Linked DNA regions of Homo sapiens: all the other regions are linked to region 1. The links come from fine-mapping of genetic effects on gene expression. A gene starts in region 1. Each other region holds a variant in brackets. All regions are shown on one strand. Distances are from middle to middle.

Region 1 (5,385 bases):
TCTCTTGCTTTGTTGCCCAGGCTGCAGTACAGTGGCCCGATCTCAGCTCACTGCAAGCTCTGCCTCCCAGGTCCACGCCATTCTCCTGCCTCAGCCTCCCGAGTAGCTGGGACTACAGGTGCCCACCACCACGCCTGGCTAATTTTTTGTATTTTTAGTAGAGCCGGGGTTTCACCGTGTTAGCTGGGATGGTATTGATCTCCTGAACTCGTGATCTGCCCGCCTCGGCCTCCCAAAGTGTTGGCATTACAGGTGTGAGCCACTGCGCCCAGGCAGCATATGTACATATTTCTATATAGGTATACACATGCAGTGCTAACATTAGTCTTTTAAAAAGGGAGAAATACACATTTATATATTTATATATAATATATATAGAGAGAGTAAATTACTGAAAGTGATGCCTCTAGGTAGTGGGGTATGAAGAGTCTAAGAGGAAGGCCAGGCACAGTGGCTCGCGTCTGTAATTCCAACACTTTGGGAGGCTGAGGCGGGTGGATCGCTTGACGTCAGGAGTTTGAGACCAGCCTGGCCAACATGTTGAAACCCCGTCTCTACCAAAAAATACAAGTTAGCTGGGCGTGGTGGTGCACACCTGTAATCTCAGCTACTTGGGAGGCTGAGGTAGGAGAATCACTTGAACCCGGGAGGCAGAGGTTGCAGTGAGCCAAGATTGCACCACTGCACTCCAGCCAGGGTGACACAGAGAGACCCTGTCCAAAAAAAAAAAGAGTCTAAGAGAAAAAGAAGGTAGATAAATAAACCAAATGATCAAATCTAACTTCAGCAAAACTGCAACGAACTGACATCAGGCACTCTGGAAGGGCCACACTGACAGAGACACAACGTTGCCTCTCACATATTCCTGGTAAAAACATTTAAGCTGAAGCTAATCATGAGGCGAAAATCAGACAAATCCAAATTGAGCGATATTCTGCAAAACACTGGGCTGGATTCTTTAAAAATGTCATTTGGCCTACAGAGGACAGCCAAATAAAAATGAAAATATCATTGTCATGAAAGACACAAAAGGCAGGGACACCATATTAAAAGAGACCAAAGAGATATGACAACAGAATACAATTGGTGATTCTTGATTGGATAGAAAAAATATAAACAACTATAACACATGTTATTGGGATAAATGGAAAAACTGAAATATGGACTGTGTATCAGAGTATTGTATCATTGTTAAATTTTCTAAATGTGTTATTTGTACTGTGATGATGTAGGAGAATGTCCTTGTTCTTGGCAGATAACTGCTGAAAGAAGTGGTGAATTATTAGTAGTCTACAACTAACTCTTGAAAGGTCCAGTGAAAATAAATACATAAATGGGAGAGAGAAAACACCAGAGCGAAAGCGAGCACACAAAAATAAGGCAAAATGGTGCAGCTAAGTGAAGGACGGGTTTATAAATATTCAATGTACTGCTCTTGCAACTTTCCTGTACATCTGAAAATTTTCAAAACAAACAGATGGGAAGAAAAAAATGAATATAGTACAAAATATGTGCAGTATCATAGTCTGCACTGTAAGTAAAAGTGTAAAGTCTTTTGTAGACCTTGGATTCTAACTACAGCTTTGTAGTGCATTAATGAAAAAGGTAAACATTAAACAATATCCAACAAAATAAAATAAAAATAAAAATGCCTTGTAAAGGGTGAATGAGATTAATTATTTTAAATGTTATGCAATGTACACCATTGACAATTAGGATACAATGCAAATTTAACATTATAACTACTCCTAACATAATATTTTCACAGCAAAGGTCTGAATTTTTACTGCACCTCTGGTTCACAACCATAAACAATTATATCTGTACAGTAATAATAATTTTAAAAACATCATTCTAGCTGGTTGCACTTGGATTGTCAATAATCCACAAATCCCACTAAAGAAAATTTTTTACCCGTTACATTTTCTAGAATGACTACCTCATTTCCCAACTTTGAAGTAACAGCTTTTAACTAAAAGGTTGCTTCAAAACTACTATTAAAAAGTGGTTCCTATAAAACACTACTGCTTGACCCAAAAAATAAAATAAAGCACACAGCCCAGCTTTCCTCTCAATTGGTCACTAAACCAGTATCATGAAAAGGCAGGGAGCCACGCTGTAAGCGCTCCCCCGTTTTCTGCCGAATGTTCAGGAAAAGAGTGTCAGGTTCAAGCCAGCATTTAAAATAAAATAAAATGAATCACAGTCAACTCCCTAAACTCCAATGTAAGAACCACGCACCTGCACCAAAATATGCCTGAGCGGGAACTCGAGTCGGCTCTCCGAGACCCCAAAGTTCCCAACCTAGCCCCAACCCCTCAAGCTTCCCCCAGGGGCACCGGCTTCTCACAGCCGAGGGGGATTCGGGGCCCACATGCGGAGCCTCCCGGGCCTGTCGAGCCACGGCAGAAGGCGACGACGCCCGGCCCCACAGGCCCCTCAAGCTCCTCAAGCTCCCCCAGTCCCTCCCTCCCCCGCCACTCGCTCTCCAGTCCCTGCCCCTTTCCCCGGCCCCACTCACTCTTCATCTTGGATGCGGAAGCCGGTGACAACCCCTTGCCGACACTGGACGGAAAAGAAAGAAGCAGGAAGGTTGTCCCCCTGCTTTCCACTTCCCTGAGGCGGGGTCCCGCACTAGGATCTCCGTGGTGGTCCCTCGAAGGAGAGCGTTAGAGATCCCGCCGCCATGTTGTGTCCCTGTCACCCTAGCAACCGTCAGGCCCTGAACGCCATGAGCTGTCGCCTGCGCATGCGCAAGATGCCCCGCCCATGTACGCGTGCGCAGTGCAGCCCGTCCCCTCAGCCCGGTTGCTAAGCAGCCTTTCCTCCGCTTCCATGTAAATACTGTGCAAATCCCCGCCTTTGACACAGGCGACCTTCGCTCGGCTCGCTCTCCCTGCTGGCCTGGGAACTTAGCGATTTGGAACCCACTACGTGGACGATAGCCTTGAGCTTTAATTGGGCTTGGGAGCTTCTACAGGAATTTTTTTTTTTTTTTGAGACAGAGTGTCGCTCTGTTACCCAGGTTGGGGTGCAATGGCGTGATCTCGGCTCACTGCAACCTCCGCCTCCCGGCTTCAAGCGATTCTCCTGCCTCAGCCTCCCAAGTAGCTGGGATTACAGGCACCCACCACTACACCCGGCTAATGTTTTTGTATTTTTAGTAGAGACGGGGTTTCACCATGTTAGGCTGGTCTCGAACTCCTGACCTCAGGTGATCCGCCTGCCTCGGCCTCCCGAAGTGCTGGGATTACAGGCGTGAGCCACCACGCCCGGCCCAGTTTTTCTTTTTAATTCAACAAGCATTTGTTTTTGCCCCAGGAACTGTCGCAGGTATTGGGGATTAAAGGACAGTGTAGACGAGGTGACTGAGTTCTTGAAACTAACATTCTAGTGTAAAGATGAATGAATGTACACCGGAATGAACTATGTGCAGACACGGTGCCTAAGCAACACAGTGGCCTAGTTCTCTGGACCCTGACAAAACAATAAAATAACAAGCATACTATGTATGGGTATAGTATTTTATGAAGCTCATTAGATTAGCCTCATAATTATTCCATGAGATCAAAACCCTGTTTTTTCCTCCATTTTTTTTCTTTTACTAAAATACATCGTTTATTTTTAAAACAGATAAGTAGCCTTGCCAAAACGAAGCCTCAGAAAATTGGTTTAAGACTGAATTGGCCAGGTGTGGTGGCTCACACCTGTAATCCCAGCACTTTGGAAGGCCGAGGCAAGAGGATCGCTTGAGGCCAGAAATTCAAGACCAGCCTGGGCAACATAGAGAAACCCCACTTCCCTCTTAAAAAAAAAAAAAAAAAAACTCCGGGCGTGGTGGCTCACGCCTGTAATCCCAGCACTTTGGGAGGCCAAGGCGGGCAGATCACGAGGTCAGGAAATCGAGACCATCCTGGCTAACACGGTGAAACCCCATCTCTACTAAAAATACAAAAAAAATTAGCCGGGCGTAGTGGCGGGCGCTATAGTTCCAGCTACTCCGGGGGCTGAGGCAGGAGAATGGCGTGAACCCTGGAGGCGGAGCTTGCAGTGAGCCGAGATTGCACCACCTGCACTGCAGCCTGGGCGACAGAGCAAGAGACTCAAAAAAAAAAAAAAAAAAAAAAAAAAGCCGGGCACGGTGGCACATGCCTGTAAACCCAGCTATTCAGGAGAATAAGGCGGAGGTATCTTGAGACCAGGAGTTCTAGGCTCAGTGAGCTATGATAGCACCACTGCACTCTAGCCTGGGTGACAAAGCAAGACCTTGTCTCGAAAGAAAGAGAAAGCGGCCGGTCGCGGTGGCTCACACCTGCAATCCCAGCACGTTGGGCGGCCGAGGCAGGCAGATCACTTGAGTCCAGGAGTTCGAGACCAGCCTGGCCAACATGGGGGAAACCCCGTCTCTACTAAAAAAATACAAAACGGCTGGGCACAGTGGCTGATGCCTGTAATCCCAGCACTTTGGGAGGCCAAGGCGGGTGGATCCCCAGGTCAGGAGTTCAAGACTAGCCTGGCCAAGATGGTGAAACCCCATCTCTACTGAAAATAGAAAAATGAGCCGGGTGTGGTGGCAGGCACCTGTAATCCCAGCTACTCGGGAGGCTGAGGCAGAGAATTGCTTGAACCCGGGAGGCGGAGGTTGCAGTGAGCCGAGATTGCGCCACTGCACTCCAGCCTGGGCGACAGAGTGAGACTCCGTCTAAAAAAGCAAATACATAAATAAAATACAAAACAAGCCAGGCGTGGTGGCTCACACCTATAATCCCAGCACTTTGGGAGGCCGAGGAGGATGGACCAACTGAGGTCAGGAATTCGAGACCAGCTGGCCAACCAACATGGTGAAACCCTGTCACTACTAAAAATACAAAAATTAGCCAGGTGTGGTGATGCGCTCCTGTAATCCCAGCTACTCAGGAGGCTGAGGCGGGAGAATCACTTGAACCCAGGAGGTGGAGGCTACAGTGAGTCGAGATCCTGCCACTACACTCCAGTCTGGGCGACAGAGCAAGACTCCATCTCAAAAAATAATAAATAAATAAATGGTTACAATGGTGAATTTTATGTAAATTTTCTCTCAATAAAAAAGTTGAAAAAATAAATAGCGATTATTGCTGGTGTATTATTGTTGGTGGTGCTATCTTTGTTGGCTTTGAGAAGCCACATCTAATCTCTCCAGACCACTAGGATTTGATCTATCCCTTCTTCTCTTCTTGTGTTCTTTCTTATTTGGGGGCTTGCCCTTATGTCACATTTATATTTCTAACCCTGTCTCTTGCTTGTTAGTTTCTTCTAACCAGGTGGGTTCTAAGTTCCTTGGGCCCCTCATGTGTCTTTTCTCTACCCTGCAGGGCAGAGTGTATTAAATAAGTGAACAGGTGAATG
Region 2 (5,385 bases), 150 kb before region 1:
TAAAACAACAAAAAACAGTTGTAAGGAGTCCATGGCACAGAAAGTTTAAGCACCCTGATTTAGGTAAGTCTTCCCTTAACTTCTTTAGTATCTCATGTGTGATTGAATATAAGAAGGGTGACTAGTTTCTTATGTCCTGTGAAGTGTAACTTTTAGCTCCATGAAGAGCTCTCTTGTGGTACTTTCACTCAGCAGTTGCTCATCTAGAATTCTAAGCTGGCCATGCTTTTTGCTTCATTTTTCTTCTTCCTGATCATTCTTGCTGCCCTAACTAGAGGGCAGAATACAAGAACCACTCCACAAGGTGGACTCTGTTCCATTTGGTTCAGATAGTAGGTGATGACAGTGTAATATTTGTCTCAATTGCAGCAGGAACTTTAGAGAAGATTTAATAAGGTGTCATTTGAATTCAGATGGTGGGTCAGCTGAAAGGGGAGGGGATTCTAAACCAAGAGAACTAGAAGTTCAAGGCCTAAGGATGTGGCAGCTGCTGGCTCCTTCTGGGAGTGTGAGCTGCAGTGTGAGGGCTGAAGCTTGTGCAAGGCTTGGGGAGGGTAGGATTATCTTCCTTAGTGGTGGTCATTTAAATGTTGGCCTCTTTTAGAATTCTTAGTATGATTTAAAAAGTGTGTCTTAAAATGTATTTTCTTTTGGTGCTAGTTCCAAAGTAATGTACTACATTAGTGTATTGTCCTCCTTTAGGGCTGAAGTCATCAGATTGTATCAGTGCTGTCTCGGGGTGCTATCGCTTCCCTTCCTTTCTCAATGTTTTCAGCCCCTGCCTCACTGCCACTGTCTCAAGCATTACCCCTGTTCCAGTGCAGTGAGCAATCATTATAACGCCCCTCGTATACACACTCGATCCCAGTCTTGGCTAAAGTGAATCCTCTGCCTACTGCACATCTGCACGTGTGCCCTGCATGTGGTTGAAGGATAGCACATCTGTGCTGCCTACACTCCCCTAAGATTCAGAACCATCACCTTGGAGGGGTGCATGGTGCTGACAAGCAGTTGCACCACACTGACCCCACCCTTCTAGATGACAATTTTTTTTTTTAAGATGGAGTCTCACTCTTGTTGCCCAGGCTGGAGTGCAATGGCGTGATCTTGGCTCACTGCAACCTCTGCCTCCTGGGTTCAAGCGATTCCCCTGCCTCAGCCTCCTGAGTAGCTGAGATTACAGGCATGTACCACCACGCCTGGCTAATTTTTGTATTTTAAATAGAGACGGGGTTTCACCATGTTGGTCAGGCTGGTCTCAAACTCCTGACCTTATGATCCGCCCACCTTGGCCTCCCAAAGTGTTGAGATTACAGGCATTAGCCACTGTGCCCAGCCTAGATGACAATTTTACAACTTTGTCCTCAGATCTTCAATAACCTACTTCCCTATCCTTATTCTTAGTTGATGACTGTACTTCTTATTTCACTTAGAACAATTAAACAGTCAAAAGAGAATTTCTCCAGATTTCTACCCTCACATCTCAGCTTCTGTCTGTACCGGATGCCTTCCCTTCTATTTTTAAGGAAGAGCTCTGCCCCTGTCTAAAGTCACCTCCCCGACTCGTTCGCTAAATCCCACCTCATTTTGGCTAATCGGTATTCTCTGTTTCCTACAAACGTGTCGCTGTTTCTCTCATTTTAAAACAGTTGTCAGGGGGAGAGACTCTTTCTGACACCCACTCATTTTCTTTCTTTTTTTTTAAGGCAGGGTCTCTCTCAGTCACCCAGACTGTAGTGTAGTAATGTGATCAAAGCTCACCGCAACCTTTAACTCCTGGCCTCAAGCGATCCTCCCACCTCACACTCCCAAGTAGCTGGGACTAAAAGGGTGCACCACCACACCCCTGGCTAATTTTTACATTTTTTGTAGAGATGGAGTCTCACTATGTTACCCAGGCTGGTCTTGAACTCCTGGGCTCCAGTGGTCCTGCTTCATCCTCCCAAAGTGCTGGGATGACAGGCATGAGCCACCGCACCCAGCCCACCCACTCATTTTCTATGGGTCATGTGCCTCCAGTTGCTGCTGGCCCATTTCTCAGCTACTTCTTAGAGCAAAGCACCTCTAGTTGTTTAAATTGTCTCAGCCCTCAAAGTGTGATCCACAGAGCTACATCAGCATCATCAGCGGTCACCTGGGAGCCTGTTGGAAGTGCAGAATATTGGCCCCATTTACTGAATTAAATCTGCATTCTAAGACAATCCTCAAGTGTTTCAGGTACACACTAAAGTTGAAGAGGCACTGGTCTTTACTAGCTTTCTTTGATTGTTTCACCGCCTCTTAAAACTTAATCCAGCTGGGTGCGGTGGCGCACGCCGGTAATCCCAACACTTTGGGAGGCTGAGGTGGGCAGATTGCTTTATCTCAGGAGTTCCAGACCAGCCTGGGCAAAACAGACCTCATCTCTATTAAAATTTTTTGAAAAGATCAACGAGGAGTGGTGACCTGTGCCTGTAGTCCCAGCTACTTGGAAAGCTGAGGTGGGAGGATCATTTGAGCTGGGGAGACAGAGGTTGTAGTGAACCGAGATCAAGCCACTGCACTCCAGCCTAGGCAACAGAGGAAGAGCCTGTCTCCAAAAAAATAAAAACCTTGATCCAGTTTTGGGAGGCTGAGGTGGGAGGATCACTTAAGACCAGGAATTTGAGACCAGCCTGGGCAACATTGTGAGACCCTGTCTTTACAAAAAATTTAAAAACTAGCCAGGCATGGTGGTACACATCTGTAGTCCTGCTACTTGGGAGGCTGAGGCGATAGGATGGCTTAAGCCCAGGAATTCAACGCTTCAGTGAGCTATGATCATACCACTGCACTCCACCCTGAGTAACAGAGCGAAACCCTGTCTCTAAAAACAAACAAAAAACTTGAATGCGCTCAAATTATTTCTTCTTGCTAT[CTGTTT/C]TAAGTGTACAATTGAATGATTTTTAGTAATTTATTGAGTTGTACAATTATCACTGTAGTCTAGTTTTAGAACAGGAGAGATTGGTTTTAAAATTTAATTTTATATTTCAGTTATGCAGAACATTTACATGGTTGCAGCATATAGAACAAGGTTATATTCAGAGAGGTCTGTCTTCTAGTCCTGTCCTCCTTCCCCCTCCTAGCTCCCTTCCTCTAACTATAGATAATATTTTATTTGTTTTTGACTTATTCTTTTGTTGTTACACGAATAAGACAACATTTGAGCAGAGATGGGAAGGAATTGAGGGAACATACTGTGTATGGTATTTTACATCTTGTTTTTTCTGCTTAATGATCTATATTGGAGATCTTTCCATTTTAGTAAAAGAGAGCTTCACTCTTTCTTGTCATTGCTTTGTACTCCATGCTGTGGATGTACCATAATTTATTTGACGACATCACTCTTGATTGATTGATGATCCCTTTAAAAAATATGAATAATGGCCGGGCGCGGTGGCTCACGCCCATAATCCCAGCACTTTGGGAGGCTGAGGCAGGTGGATCACAAGGTCAGGAGATCAAGACCATCCTGGCTAACACGGTGAAACCCCGTCTCTACTAAATATATAAAAAAAAAAAATTAGCCAGGTGTAGTGGCAGGCACCTGTATTCCCAGCTACTTGGGAGGCTGAGGCAGGAGAATGGCGTGAACCCAGCGAGTGGAGCTTGCAGTGAGCCGAGATCGCGCCACTGCATTCCAGCCTGGGTGACAGGGCAAGACTCTGTCTCAAAAAAAAAAAAAAAAAAAAGAATAATGCTGCAGTGAATAACCTCACATGTATGATAAATTTCCAGAGGAGGATCATTTCCTCACATGTATGATAAATTTCCACATGTATGATAAATTTAACCTCACATGTATGATAAATTTCCAGTGGATACACTGGGTCAAAGCATAACTGCATATATATATATATATATATATTTTTTTTTTTTTTTTTTTTTTTTTTGAGGCAGAGTCTCACTCAGTCGCCCAGGCTAGAGTGCCGTGGCACAATCTTGGCTCACTGCAACCTCCGCCTCCCGGGTTCAAGCAGTCCTCCTGCCTCAGCCTCCCAAGTAGCTGGAATTACAGGTGCCTAGCACCATGCTCAGCTATTTTTTTTTTTTTTTAAGACAGGATCTCTCTCTGTCACCCAGGCTGGAGTGCAGCGGTGCGATCATGGCTTACTGTAGCTTCAGCCTCCTGGTCTCAAGCAACTCTTTGACCTCAGCCTCCTGAGTAGCTGGGACTACAGGCTCGAGCCACTGTGCTCGTTTAATTTTTGTGTTTTTTGTATAGACAGGGTTTCGCCATATTGCCCATGCTGGGTTCACTAGTGTGTTTTAGCATTTAGCATACTTAGGAATGTTGTGGTTTACAAGTAACAGGAAACCCATTCAAACTGTTTAAATTTTAAAGGGGTGTATTGGTGTATGTCACTGAAAATTCCACAGGTACAGTGGGCTTCAGGCATGGTTTGATTGGGATGCCAGCTCCGTTTTGCTGAGATTCCATTGGTTCTGCTTTCTACCGTGTTTCAGCCCGGTTTAGGTGGCAAAACAGTGGTGGAAATGTTAGGCTTCACATCACCGTACCACATAGACCAAAATGAGAGCTAATATCCAGGATGAGAATGAACAGCTCTTCTAATCAGGCTGTCATAAAAATAAGGAAGCTTATTTTATAGAAGCCTTTACCAAACCTCCTTCTTTGACTTGTTGTTCCAAATTGGATTAACCAGCCCATTCCTGCGGCCAAGGAAATACGCACTGGTTAACCCAGTCTTTACTAACCCATACCTTTAGCAAAGAGATTGGATTACCCAACAACTTGATTGCTCTGGAGACTACTTTGGAGTTGGGGTATGAGATAGTAGATAGGAGAATGATCTGTAAGTAGATATTGGATAAGCGAGTAAGAAATGCAAACTACACTGAGGTCTTGCACTGGTCTAGGTTTTGGGACCCAGATGTAATAGACATAGTTCTTTTCTCGAGACAAGCTCATAGGAGAACCGGTACAGCAGGGAATACAACACACTGGAATTGGCACATTGAGTGCACCTTTGACTGCATTGTACTGTTTCGTGGTTTAAACCTGTCTTTCCTTTGCCCTTGCTGTTTGACTACTATGATTGAGCTGCCACCTTTTCACACAATATTGGAATTTTTTGTTTGAATCTCTGTTTACCCTACTGGACTGTGAATCTTGAGGGAAGAAACCATATCTTATTGATCATATCAATAAGTGCCTGTACGTAGTAGGCACATTATGTTCATTTTTAAGTTGAACAAAATTGGAACTAATTTGTTGAAATTATAGTCCTCCAACAAGGACTCACTTGAATACATCAGATAATCTTTCTTTCTTTTTCTCTCTCTCTCTTTCTTTCTTTTTCTTTCTTTCTCTTGCTCTCTCACGCTCTCTCGCCCTCTCACACT
Region 3 (5,000 bases), 74 kb before region 1:
TGGACTCGGAAAACATTAAAATGCAATACTGTAACGACAGCTTATTCTTTAATAAAAGTCAGGGGTGTCAGCAGCGTCACTGGTAAGACATGATGGCGCTCCACGACTGACCAGCAGCGCTGGGAAGGGACACGCAGAACCCACCTTCCAACCACGCCCAACACATCACAGAAATGCCTGCTCGTTTGTTTTGATTCATATACAAAGTTACAAAGTATTTCCTGCCCCAAATTCTTAACGAAAATGAAAGAAAACCCTAGAATGCGGTGGTTTTACAAGTATATTAGCCCAGAACATCCTAGGCAGCTGCGCGGGCCGCGGGTGCGGCAGGGCGCAGGGCAGCACCCAGAGCCCCGGCCAGCGCGAAACGGACGCAGGCGCATCCCCAGCCCTCCGTGGCGTCTCAGCAGCAGATCACCCAGGCCTGGCCCGGTCGGGCTTGGTGTTGCCTCCGAAGTCGAGACGACGGTGCTGCTCAGTTATCTTCCGCCTTTCCGCACTATGGTGGGCAGGCGACACTGCTGCGGGGCAGGCTTAAGGTCCTTCTGCGGATCTGTCTGTCAAAGAAAAATTACAGACACAAAATTCAGTGGCGGCCTGGGCTGGGTCGAAGAGCAGCGCCGTCAGAGAAGCTGGTTCCGCGCTACCTTCTTGCTCGCAGGGATGCACTTCAAGGGTCTCAGCACCGGCACTCTTCCATTTGTTCCAGATCCAAGCACGGACTGCAGCGTGGGGCTGGAGTAAGACGACAGTCTGACCACTCCCGAAAGCTTTAGTTTGGGCAGTTCCATGACATAGGCCGGTCCTCGTCTCTTGGGACGGTCCTCCTCTTGCTTTAGGGACTGTTTCTTGAAACAGAACAGAGGCCAGTTGGACATAAAACGCTTTCTGCTTTATGGAAATTAGGAAAAACGAAAGAGGCTCTTTTGTACTGCTTTTGCCTAATACAATTTCTTGACCATAAGATGTGACTGGGACACATCCACCAGGTCCCAGACACCCCAAGGGAGTGGCTGCCCACTAGAGTCCCACGGGGGAGGCCAAACCTTCAGGGGGAACCTGAAGAATGCCGACTGCAAGCTGAGCAGTGCGGGCGGCAAAGGGCTCGCGGGCTGTGGTGCCCACGCCTCCTGCCTCCTGCTCTAGCTCCAAGGTCTCACACCCTGATCTGCCTGTCGCCTGGTTTTGGGTGGCTTGTGAGCTAAGGATGGTTTTACATTTGGGGTTTTTTGTTTGTTTGTTTGTTTTGAGACACGGTGTTTGTTGCTCTGTAGCACAGACTGGAGTGCAGTGGTGCAATCTTGGCTCACTGTAGCCTCAGCTTCCTAGGCTCAGGCGATCCTCCTGCCTCAGCCTCCCAAGTAGCTGGGACCAAAGGCACGCACCACACCCAGCTAATTTTTAAAACAGATGGGGTGGTGGGGCAGTGGTCTTGCCTACGTTGCCCAGGCTGGTCTCAAACTCCTGGCCTCAAGTGATCCTACCCTGGCCTCCCTAAGCACTGGGTTTACAGGTGTGAGCCACCGCACCCACCTGGTTTTTATTTTTAATGACTGAAAAAAAAATGTTTCATGGCATGTGAAAATTATGTGAAATTCAAATTTTAGTGTCCCCAGTTCTACTGGAACGCAGCCCCTATGTGGTTCATGTGTTGCCTCCAGCTCCTTTCACACTGCAGCAAAGCAGGGAGTGTAACGAACACCCCACGGCCACGGGGCCTAAAATATTTCCTATCAGACCCTTAGAGAAAAATATGCCGACCTCGGATGTGACTGAGGGTGGGGACTTGGGTGAATGCCGGCCAGGAGTGACATCAAGGGTTTGAAGCAGACCCTCTGTCCAGGAGGGAGCGGAGGCAGAGCAGGGACAGTAGTGAGGAGGCCATCTGTGGTGACTTAGGCAAGGTGAGGAGGATGTAGGAGGCAAGAAGGCGAAGCCCCTGTGGGATGAAGGAAGGGTCCACGGGGGGCCTGGGCAGTTGACGGAGTTGCCTCCCTCGGAGGGAAGGCCATGGGAAGCCACAGGGAAAAAGCACGTTTGGGGAAAGATCAGGAGAAGGGGTTTCAGCAAGTCTGTCTTTCGGACATTCAAGTGGAGCTGTCAAATCAGGGACCAATGGGACACAGGAGCCTGGCTTTCTGGAGAGCAGCCTGACTGCAGCTCTGGGTTCCCAGCTCCCAAGCGGTCAGGGAGCACTCGGTAAAGGCTGGGAGGAGCGAGTGACGTACGGACGACCGAACAGACGAATGATGGAAGGGCACACTGTCACACTGTTGGGGTGCCAGCCCAGAACTGGGAGACTGGTGTGACCCTGCCAGCAGGTGACACAGGGCTGCACCAGGCTAGGATGCCACACGGTAGGTGGGAAGGTGAAGGCACTGAGGGGCAAAGCTGGCATTTCTCAACCGAAAATGTGCACAACCTCTGCTGATGGGACGAAGTGCTCATCTGGAGCCAGGCAGAGACAGTGACTTGAGACCTGTCACTGGCTGGGTGGGTGACTTGGGCCAGCATTGCATCTTCTTGGCGCCTCCCTCCAGGGCCGTTCTGAGGGGCGATGTCTGCACGGTGCTTTGGCATAGAACCTGGCACCTGCATATGGTCATCAGGACAGACACAAAAGTTCATGCAAACATCCCCTCTCTGGGCCTGCTCACATGGGATATTCGTCATCAATTCTTAGCTACTGGGGCAGAAAGGGCTTGAGCAAATAGAACTGGGGTCCCTGATGTCCCAACACATGGAGCCATCAACTCGCATGCTGTTCAGGCCTCGACTGACAATGTGGTCTGCCACAGCCTCCACAGGTGGCGTCCTCCTGAGAGAGACACAGGCCACCCGAGGGCATCCAGTCCCGGCTGAGCTAGGCAGTCTCCGGCTCCGATTT[C/T]GCTTAGTACCTGCTTTCTGCCCTCCTTGGAAATCTGGCAGCTGTTACTGAGTGGTTCCGGTGCCACAGGGTGCTCCGGAAAGCCAGCTTTTCTGTGGCTGCCCAGAGCCCGCTTCTCTGTTTTCCTACGGGGAAGGAGAAGAGAATGGAGCAGCTCCACTGAGAGCCCGCAGAGCACACGGCCTACTGGCTTCTTTGTCTCCAATTTGTCTACTGTGTGAGTTGTCACTAGCTCTTCTTTTCTGCCTGAGCTGTAATCAGGAGCCTTTTTTTTTCTTTTCTGTCTCAGCCTGACAGTCTCTGGGCCAGGAACAGAGCTGGCTCCATGAATCAGAAGCGCTGCCTACCCAGGGACTCGCAGTTTCAGATCAAACTGTCACCTCCACAGTTAGGCAAACAGGAGTGTCCAGAGGTCCGGAATTAGGTGACCTCAGGGCAGACAGGTCTTAGATTCACATTCAGCAGGTACTTCCAGCGCCAGGTGACATCCACAGTGCTCTACCATCTCAGAATGCATCCTGTTCACACCATTTACAAGGGCCGCACACCAGGCTCTTCTAGAAGGATTACTACCTGTAGCCTTGGCATCAACCGCAAAGTGGACAGCCAGCCCCTCTTTCTCCTGCCGTGGAGCTGCTAACATCCTCATTTTGGGGAGGATACACCAGAAGGCAGCACGGTGTGGGCCCCAAGAGGCCCTGACCACTCTTCAGGATAGAGAGCGCGATTCCCAAGAACCAGGGACCCTCCAGGGGGCAGTACCTTGCCCCACCATGTGCCCATGGGTCTCATTTGCCAGGTCCTGCATCTGCCCCACCGAACCCACGAGAGTGCCTACCTCTGTTCTTGGAAGTAGGGGTGCTGCAGGGCCTGGTGGGCGGCGATTCTCTCATCGGGATCATAGGCCACCATTGCGTGCAGGAGGGAGAGGCATTGTGGGGACAAATTGGTTGTTAGTAGAGGTATTCCTGATCCCTTTTTAAAAGGAAAATCAAAATTCATAGCTCTCGACCTGTATTAAAAACCCAATGATAATAAATGGTCATGCTGTCACTGAGCGCACCGGTGGTCCACTGTCACAACTAAGGGCCCTGTGTGGTGGGGAATGGTTTATGACTGCAGAGTCTACACCTGTCCCAGCCCACAGAACGTGCACCACCAAGAGGGACCCCTGATGTAAATGATGGGCTCTGTGTAGTAATGAGATATCCACGGTTCATCGACCATAATAAACACACCACTCGAGGCAGGTGCTGACGACAGGGGAGGCTGTGTGCACATGGGGACAGGGCTCTATGGAAACCTAAAACTGCTCTTAAAAAAATCTATTTAAAAATAGTCTATTATAAAGGGGGGGATCTGTTATGCTAAAAATGTAAGAAAACTACCTTTCCTATAAAAGATTAATATCACCTTCCCACATGAGAAGAATGAAATAAAATTTAACAAAAAAAGAAGAGTCCAAAATGGTTGCCACCTTCTCCCTCCCTGGGATGTGGGGGCCGCTGGGTGCTACTTGCCCCTCAGCCCACAGGCCCTCCCTGGGAAGTCCCAACTCCCAGCCTCAGCTTCACCAGAATGACCCTAAGAGTCCGGGAACACCTCTTCCAGGCGTCGGTCCCGCCAGCAGGGCTGTGGAGGGCTGCAGAAAGCCCTCACCACCTATGCTCTGTGCTTGGGGAACGTTTCCACCCAAAGGCTTCTAAGTCCTGTTTAAATTACTCAGGGAACACAGCCTGACTCCCCAGCCCTCAGAAAGCCTGTGACAAATCTTTCTGTGATGCTCAAGGAAGAGCTCACCTTTGAGACCACTTAAAGTGATGGGCTCTGTCTGAGCAGCCACTCACTGGCCCTCAAGTGAACTTGAACCCCTGTAGTCAGCCAAAGGAGCTCCTGAGAGGGGTTTGAGGGAGGCACAGGGAGGGGCTTGCCCTGCTGCAGGTCCTAGCAGGGGAGTGGGTCCACATCCACTCTCAGAACACAATACTTACTGTTTGAACTTGGTGAGGATCTTCTGAGCGGGTGTGCCGATGACATCGTGGATTTTTGAGATTTGGTCCAGTTCATTTACTCCAGGAAAGAGGGGCTGCAGACTGGAAGGGCAGAAGGGGCA
Region 4 (5,385 bases), 50 kb before region 1:
GTTACGCTAAGAGGGGAAATATGACATAGGAGAGGTTAAAATAGAAGAGATGGCAGTCTTAACTTTGTGGTTGAAATATCTTATTTTTGCAAATTTAACAAAATCTATAAACATGGTGGAGACACCGCAAGGGCCTGTTTTGGAAGCCCCGGGCGAGTCAGCTCTATCAGCTGCATAGTGACTCTGCTGCTGCTCTAGCACACGTGGTTTTTCTGAGTTTTGAAACAGGTGAAGCAGGTTTGGGAAACTGCCAATTAAAAAATTAATAAACAATAAACGTTACTGAAGAATGACAGAATTGTTGATAATTTTTTTCCTTTTTAGTGGAAATGTAGTAATTGTACCTACTAATGGGACCCAGAGAGTGTTATTTTGATCCATACATACAATGTGTAAGGATGAAATCGGGGCAATTAGCACATGCGTCAGCTCTGTGAACATTCAGAGCGCATGTGCTATGGTTTCAGTGGGAACAGCACTGAGCAATCGTCACACAAGTAGCATGGTCTGACAGCCTCAGCCGGCCTCGGAGGCCTTCCAGGACGCTGTCCTTCAGCCTACACTGATTATGAAAATGTTAGGAGTCACTCGTCAACCCAGTGTTCCACTAGGCTTTCCTGTTTATGTGGAGATGTCCACTTTAAAGGGGGACAGATCACAGTTCAAGAAGCAGTTCAACTGCTTTCAGTCACAGTCCACATGTCTTCTTTCACAGGAGAGGCCGTTTAGCGTGGCTGGCACAGTCCCCTGCAGCTGCCCTGTACTCAGCACCTGGGCTGGCTGTGCCTTGGTGCCCGCAGCTTTCTACCGTGCTTGAAGACGTCATACCACATGCCCAGCATCACAGTTTACCCCTGTTCCAGAAGATGTCAATTTTACTTGATTTTAATTTTCAAAGTGTGTGTTTTAAGTTATTAAGTTTTAAATCTGCACAATGACCATGTTCACCTAACAGTTTGGAAATCCACTTCCTCCCTCCATGAGCACATATACCATTTGACACTTTTGGTCCTAAGTTTACAATTTCTTTTGAAAAATTAAAATTATTCTTTTTCTCTACTTAACAAGAATATATAAATAATAGAAAGTAATTTAAATTGTAAAATGTCTAGGTGCAATTAGCTTTTTCTTTTTTTTTTTGGGACGAAGTGTAGCACTGTCGCCCAGGCTGGAATGCATTGGTACGATCTCCGCCCACTGCAACCTCCACCTCCCAGGTTCAAGCAATTCTCCTGCCTCAGCCTCTCGAGTAGTTGGAATTACAGGCACCCGCCACCACTACACCCTGATAATTTTTTTGTATTTTCAGTAGAGACGGGGTTTCACTATGTTGACCAGGCTGGTCTTGAACTCCTGACCTCGAGATCCGCCCGCCTCGGCCTCCCGAAGTGCTGGGATTACAGGCTTGAGCCACTGCGCCTGGCCGCAATTAACTTTTTTGTGTCATACTATCATCTTTTTATTGTTTCACATGATTTATCATCAATTTTCCAGAATTAAAATCAAAAGAATCAAAAGTAAGACCTTTATCAGCTTTCCCAAGCTGATAATTCTGGAATCTTATTAAATTAATATCTATAACAGATAAAAAGAAAGCAACTTTCCATTTGCCTTCACACACGCAGCAGAATGAAGCTGCTGGAATTTCATCTCATCAGGTGCTCCTGGGTCCTGTGATCAAACCCAGTCTCACTGCTCCCGACTTACCCCGGCACTCAAGACCCCCTTCAACCAATTCCTCTCCACCAAAAGGGTTCTCAGACTCCCACGAGTGGGTTGCTAAGACACATACTGTCCCTCCCCATCTCCACCCACATGTCTGATTCAGAAGGTCTGCAATGGGGCCCCACAGTCGCCTAACTAGAGCCCCAGGTGCAGCTACTAGTCTTGGGTCCTCGCTTCGAGAACCATGCCCCACCACCCCCTTCTTGTTTATCGAATGCTCAGGTGAATTCCCTCATGGACTCTTCTCTGGTTGCTCCCAAAGCTCGCCTGCTTAGTACCTATATTCATGATGTTCCATTCCAGGAACGCCCTTCCCAGCCATGTCCACACATTTAAATCTTACTCGTATCATAAAATTGTCATTAGAGTCATCTGAACTTGAACTTGGGAAACGTGGAATCTTTTAGGAAAAGTCTAATCTATCCAATCTTCATAATCACCTAGAAGTCTTTTAAAAAGCTGATTAAAAAGCCTGTAATCCCAGCACTTTGGGAGGCTGAGGCAGGCGGATCACGAGGTCCGGAGATCGAGACCATCCTGGCTAACACGGTGAAGCCCCGTCTCTATAAAAATACAAAAAATTAGCCAGGCGTGGCGGCAGGCGCCTTCAATCCCAGCTACTTGGGAGGCTGAGGCAGGAGAATGGTGTGAACCTGGGAGGCGGAGCTTGCAGTGAGCTGAGATCGTGCCACTGTACTCCAGCCTGGGTGACACAGTGAGACTCTGTCTCAAAAAACAATAAAATAAAATTTAAAAAAAAAGCAGATTTCAAGGCCTGAACCTAGACCTAATGGAGCCACAAACGGGCATGCGGGCCAGGAATCTGTGCTTCTCAGATGCCTTCAGTCCCAGGTAAGAGTCCTCTTCAGGTGCCCACCCTTCCTTGCCTCCCTGGGTCTCCTCCTGGAAACTCCCTATTCACAGCCCTAGGGGTAGGGAGCCGTCCTGGTCCCGGGCCAGTAGTTGGGGGTGTTACTGCTGGCATGAGGTATCAGAGCAACAGTGTGGGCCCAGTAGTCTGAAGTGCTGGAGACCACACCCTTGCAAAGGAAAGCACTGCCTAGCCACTCTCCATAAGCTTCTCCAGAACAAACTTTCCGGGCCCAAGACTATCTGGTTCCCATCAGATTCTTGTTTTCAAACAGTTTGAAACAAGTAAAATAGAGTACAATTAACGAGTTACTCAGAAGTTTCTTATATGCCCCTTAGTGAATTCCAGCAGGCCCCAAAAGCATTTCCCTCATCTGCTCTAGCTATCCTGACCAAGGTAATTTTTACAAGTTAATTTTTACCAAATATTCTCATTAAGAAGGAATGTCATATATGATACTAATAATTTTAAAAACTTAAGTGAACACAGTGATAAACCAAGGCATTCACTGTGACTCAGCACTAACTGAAGGAATACAGCTGCCACTGTAGCCTGCAGAATGACGGCATCCCCAGCACACGCCCCTCCAGCGAGGGTGGAGAGAACTACGAACTAGCCATTCATTAAGGCAAATGAGTTATTATTATT[T/A]TTTTTTTTTGAGACAGGGTCTCACTCTGTTGCCCAGGCTGGAGTGCAGTGGTACAATCAGCTCATTGCAGCCTCGACCTCCTGGGCTCAAGCCATCCTCCCACCTCAGCCTCCTGAGTAGTTGGGTCTACAGGCGTGTGCCACCACACCCGGATGCTTTTTTTTTTAATTTTTTGGGCTGGGCACGGTGGCTTACACCTGTAATCCCAGCACTTTGGGAGGCTGAGGCAGGCGGATCACGAGGTCAGGAGATTGAGACCATCCTGGCTAACACGGTGAAACCCCGTCTCTACTAAAAATACAAAAAAAAATTAGCCAGGCTAATTTAGTGGTGGCGGGTGTCTGTAGTCCCAGCTACTCGGGAGGCTGAGGCAGGAGAATGGCGTGAACCCGGGAGGCGGAGCTTGCAGTGAGCTGAGATCGCCACTGCACTCCAGCCTGGGCAACAGAGCGAGACTCCGTCTCAAAAAAAAAAAATTGTTTTTTTGTACAGACAGAGTCTTAGGCTAGTCTCAAACTCCTGTGCTCAAATAATCCTCCCGCCTTGGCCTCCCAAAGTGTTGGGACTACACACGTGAGCCACTGCACCTGGCCCTATGAATTTAACTTGAAACAGTTAAAAAAAAAAAAAAAAGAGCAGAATCAGATACAATTTTGTAAAAGAGTAGCTGCCTCTATAGTCAGAGTATGAGGGAAACTAAACCTCCTTTACGGTTTTTCCTTCATAAATTCCAAGACAGGCTTTCCTACTGCAGATGGCATGAGCCCAGAGCCATAAGCACACGCGCCCAAATACACAAACTAGGATCGCTGGCGGGTAGCCATGCTCTATTCACCCCAATTACTAACTCACGCCAAAGAATTCAGAGACATTCATCCAGAGACAGTGGCGGGCAAAGGGCCTTCGCCATCCCTTCCCCAGGCTCCCACACCACTCTTGCCTTCATGGCACACCCGCAGATTGGCTTGCTCAGGTCCTATCCCAAACCCCCATCTAGCATGCCAGGCCTGAACGTCCAAATGACATTCTTCATGCTGCCTTGCAGCTGAGTGTTCCAGATGTGACTTAGGCTCTGCCTAAATGGGAACACTTGGGAAAGATGCTTCTGGCCCAGGTATGGGGGCAGATGAGAGGAGGGAAGGCATCTATTCTGACGGCATGGATCACGGCTGCCTCCTGATCCTGGCAGAAGAGGCATGATTCCAGGCCTGGTAGCTGCAGCAGCTTTATTCTGCAGAGCGTTGTCAGCGGCAGGGCCAGCAGCCTGATCATGGAGAGCAGAGTTGTGAGAAGCAACTTCCTATAGGCCAAGCCCAGAGTCTGCTTCTTCAGTCCTCCCAACAATTCTGGCAATCTATCCATATCACAGAGTAACCCCTCTTGAGTTAATCAGAGAATAGGGGAGGCTGTTATTTGCAACTAAAAGGGAGAACCAACACATCCACCTACAGCACATTTATTCTTTAAACAGCAACTGGAGAATTCCTTCTAAAAAGATGCTACTCAAAGCACAGTCCATGAGCTGATGATGGTTCAGGGACTGTTACTGGTCTAAGAGGAGATGACATAAATTAAGAATAACTGTTTAGGGCTGGGCGCAGTGGCTCACGCCTGTAATCCCAGCACTTTGGGAGGCTGAGGTGGGCGGATCACGAGGTCAAGAGATCGAGACCATCCTGGCCAACATGGTGAAACCCCGTCTCTACTAAAAATACAAAAATTAGCAGGGCGTGGTGGCACGCACCTGTAGTCCCAGCTACTTGGGAGCCTGAGGCAGGAGAATTGCTTGAATCCGGGAGGCAGAGGTCGCAGTGAGCAGAGATCACGCCACTGCACTCCAGCCTGCCAACAGAGTGAGACTCTGTCTCAAAAAAAAAAAAAAAAGAATACCTGTTTAGAACCACTTATAGCAATTTGACATGCTGTGACATCTAAGCACGTGATCACTTTTCTGGTAATTCATTTTTACTATATTTTACAAAAATTCTGGTCTGCAATATATTAGAAATAAAACAACTGGTCTTCTGTGATCGTTTTGGAAACACTGGTCTAAACACCAATTGAAAACCACCTCTCCCTTGCTTTAAAGCCCAATAATGGCTTCCCATTGAACTTAGAGTAACGAAAATTCTTACCCTCG

Which allele goes with the higher level. Alleles are on the strand shown, and positions count from the first base shown. SD is a standard deviation of normalised expression in the study named. Not every link is listed here.
In carriers of allele CTGTTT in region 2, the expression in gastroesophageal junction of the gene that starts at base 2,724 in region 1 tends to be higher than with C alone (small effect, 0.27 SD a copy in GTEx).

Evidence for each region. PIP is the estimated chance that this variant, and not a neighbour inherited with it, causes the effect. A credible set is the group of variants that fine-mapping cannot tell apart.
Region 2: its variant is the best candidate, but not a certain one, in a credible set for the expression of MOK in gastroesophageal junction (GTEx, PIP 0.56).
Region 3: its variant is the best candidate, but not a certain one, in a credible set for the expression of MOK in whole blood (TOPMed, PIP 0.62).
Region 4: its variant is the best candidate, but not a certain one, in a credible set for the expression of MOK in whole blood (TOPMed, PIP 0.54).

What each region holds. Positions count from the first base shown.
Region 1 is chr14:102,302,441-102,307,825 of GRCh38, forward strand. MOK (MOK protein kinase) reads right to left here and starts at 2,724. Exons shown (of 12, transcript NM_014226.3): 1 at 2,522-2,724. The coding sequence starts at 2,528. RefSeq lists enhancers at 2,605-3,127, 2,894-2,943.
Region 2 is chr14:102,157,258-102,162,642 of GRCh38, forward strand. The region is part of intron 1 of WDR20 (WD repeat domain 20); the gene reads left to right. Among named protein-coding and RNA genes, the nearest start is that of WDR20, 20 kb to the left of the region's middle. RefSeq lists enhancers at 1-407, 1,590-2,090. The variant CTGTTT/C (reference allele first, on the strand shown) is at 2,897.
Region 3 is chr14:102,228,810-102,233,809 of GRCh38, forward strand. MOK (MOK protein kinase) reads right to left here. Exons shown (of 12, transcript NM_014226.3): 8 at 4,879-4,980; 9 at 3,726-3,899; 10 at 2,898-3,012; 11 at 648-848; 12 at 27-557. The coding sequence ends at 480. Among named protein-coding and RNA genes, the nearest start is that of MOK, 74 kb to the right of the region's middle. RefSeq lists an enhancer at 2,306-2,806. The variant C/T (reference allele first, on the strand shown) is at 2,888.
Region 4 is chr14:102,252,863-102,258,247 of GRCh38, forward strand. All of the region lies in intron 4 of MOK (MOK protein kinase), which reads right to left. Among named protein-coding and RNA genes, the nearest start is that of MOK, 50 kb to the right of the region's middle. The variant T/A (reference allele first, on the strand shown) is at 3,245.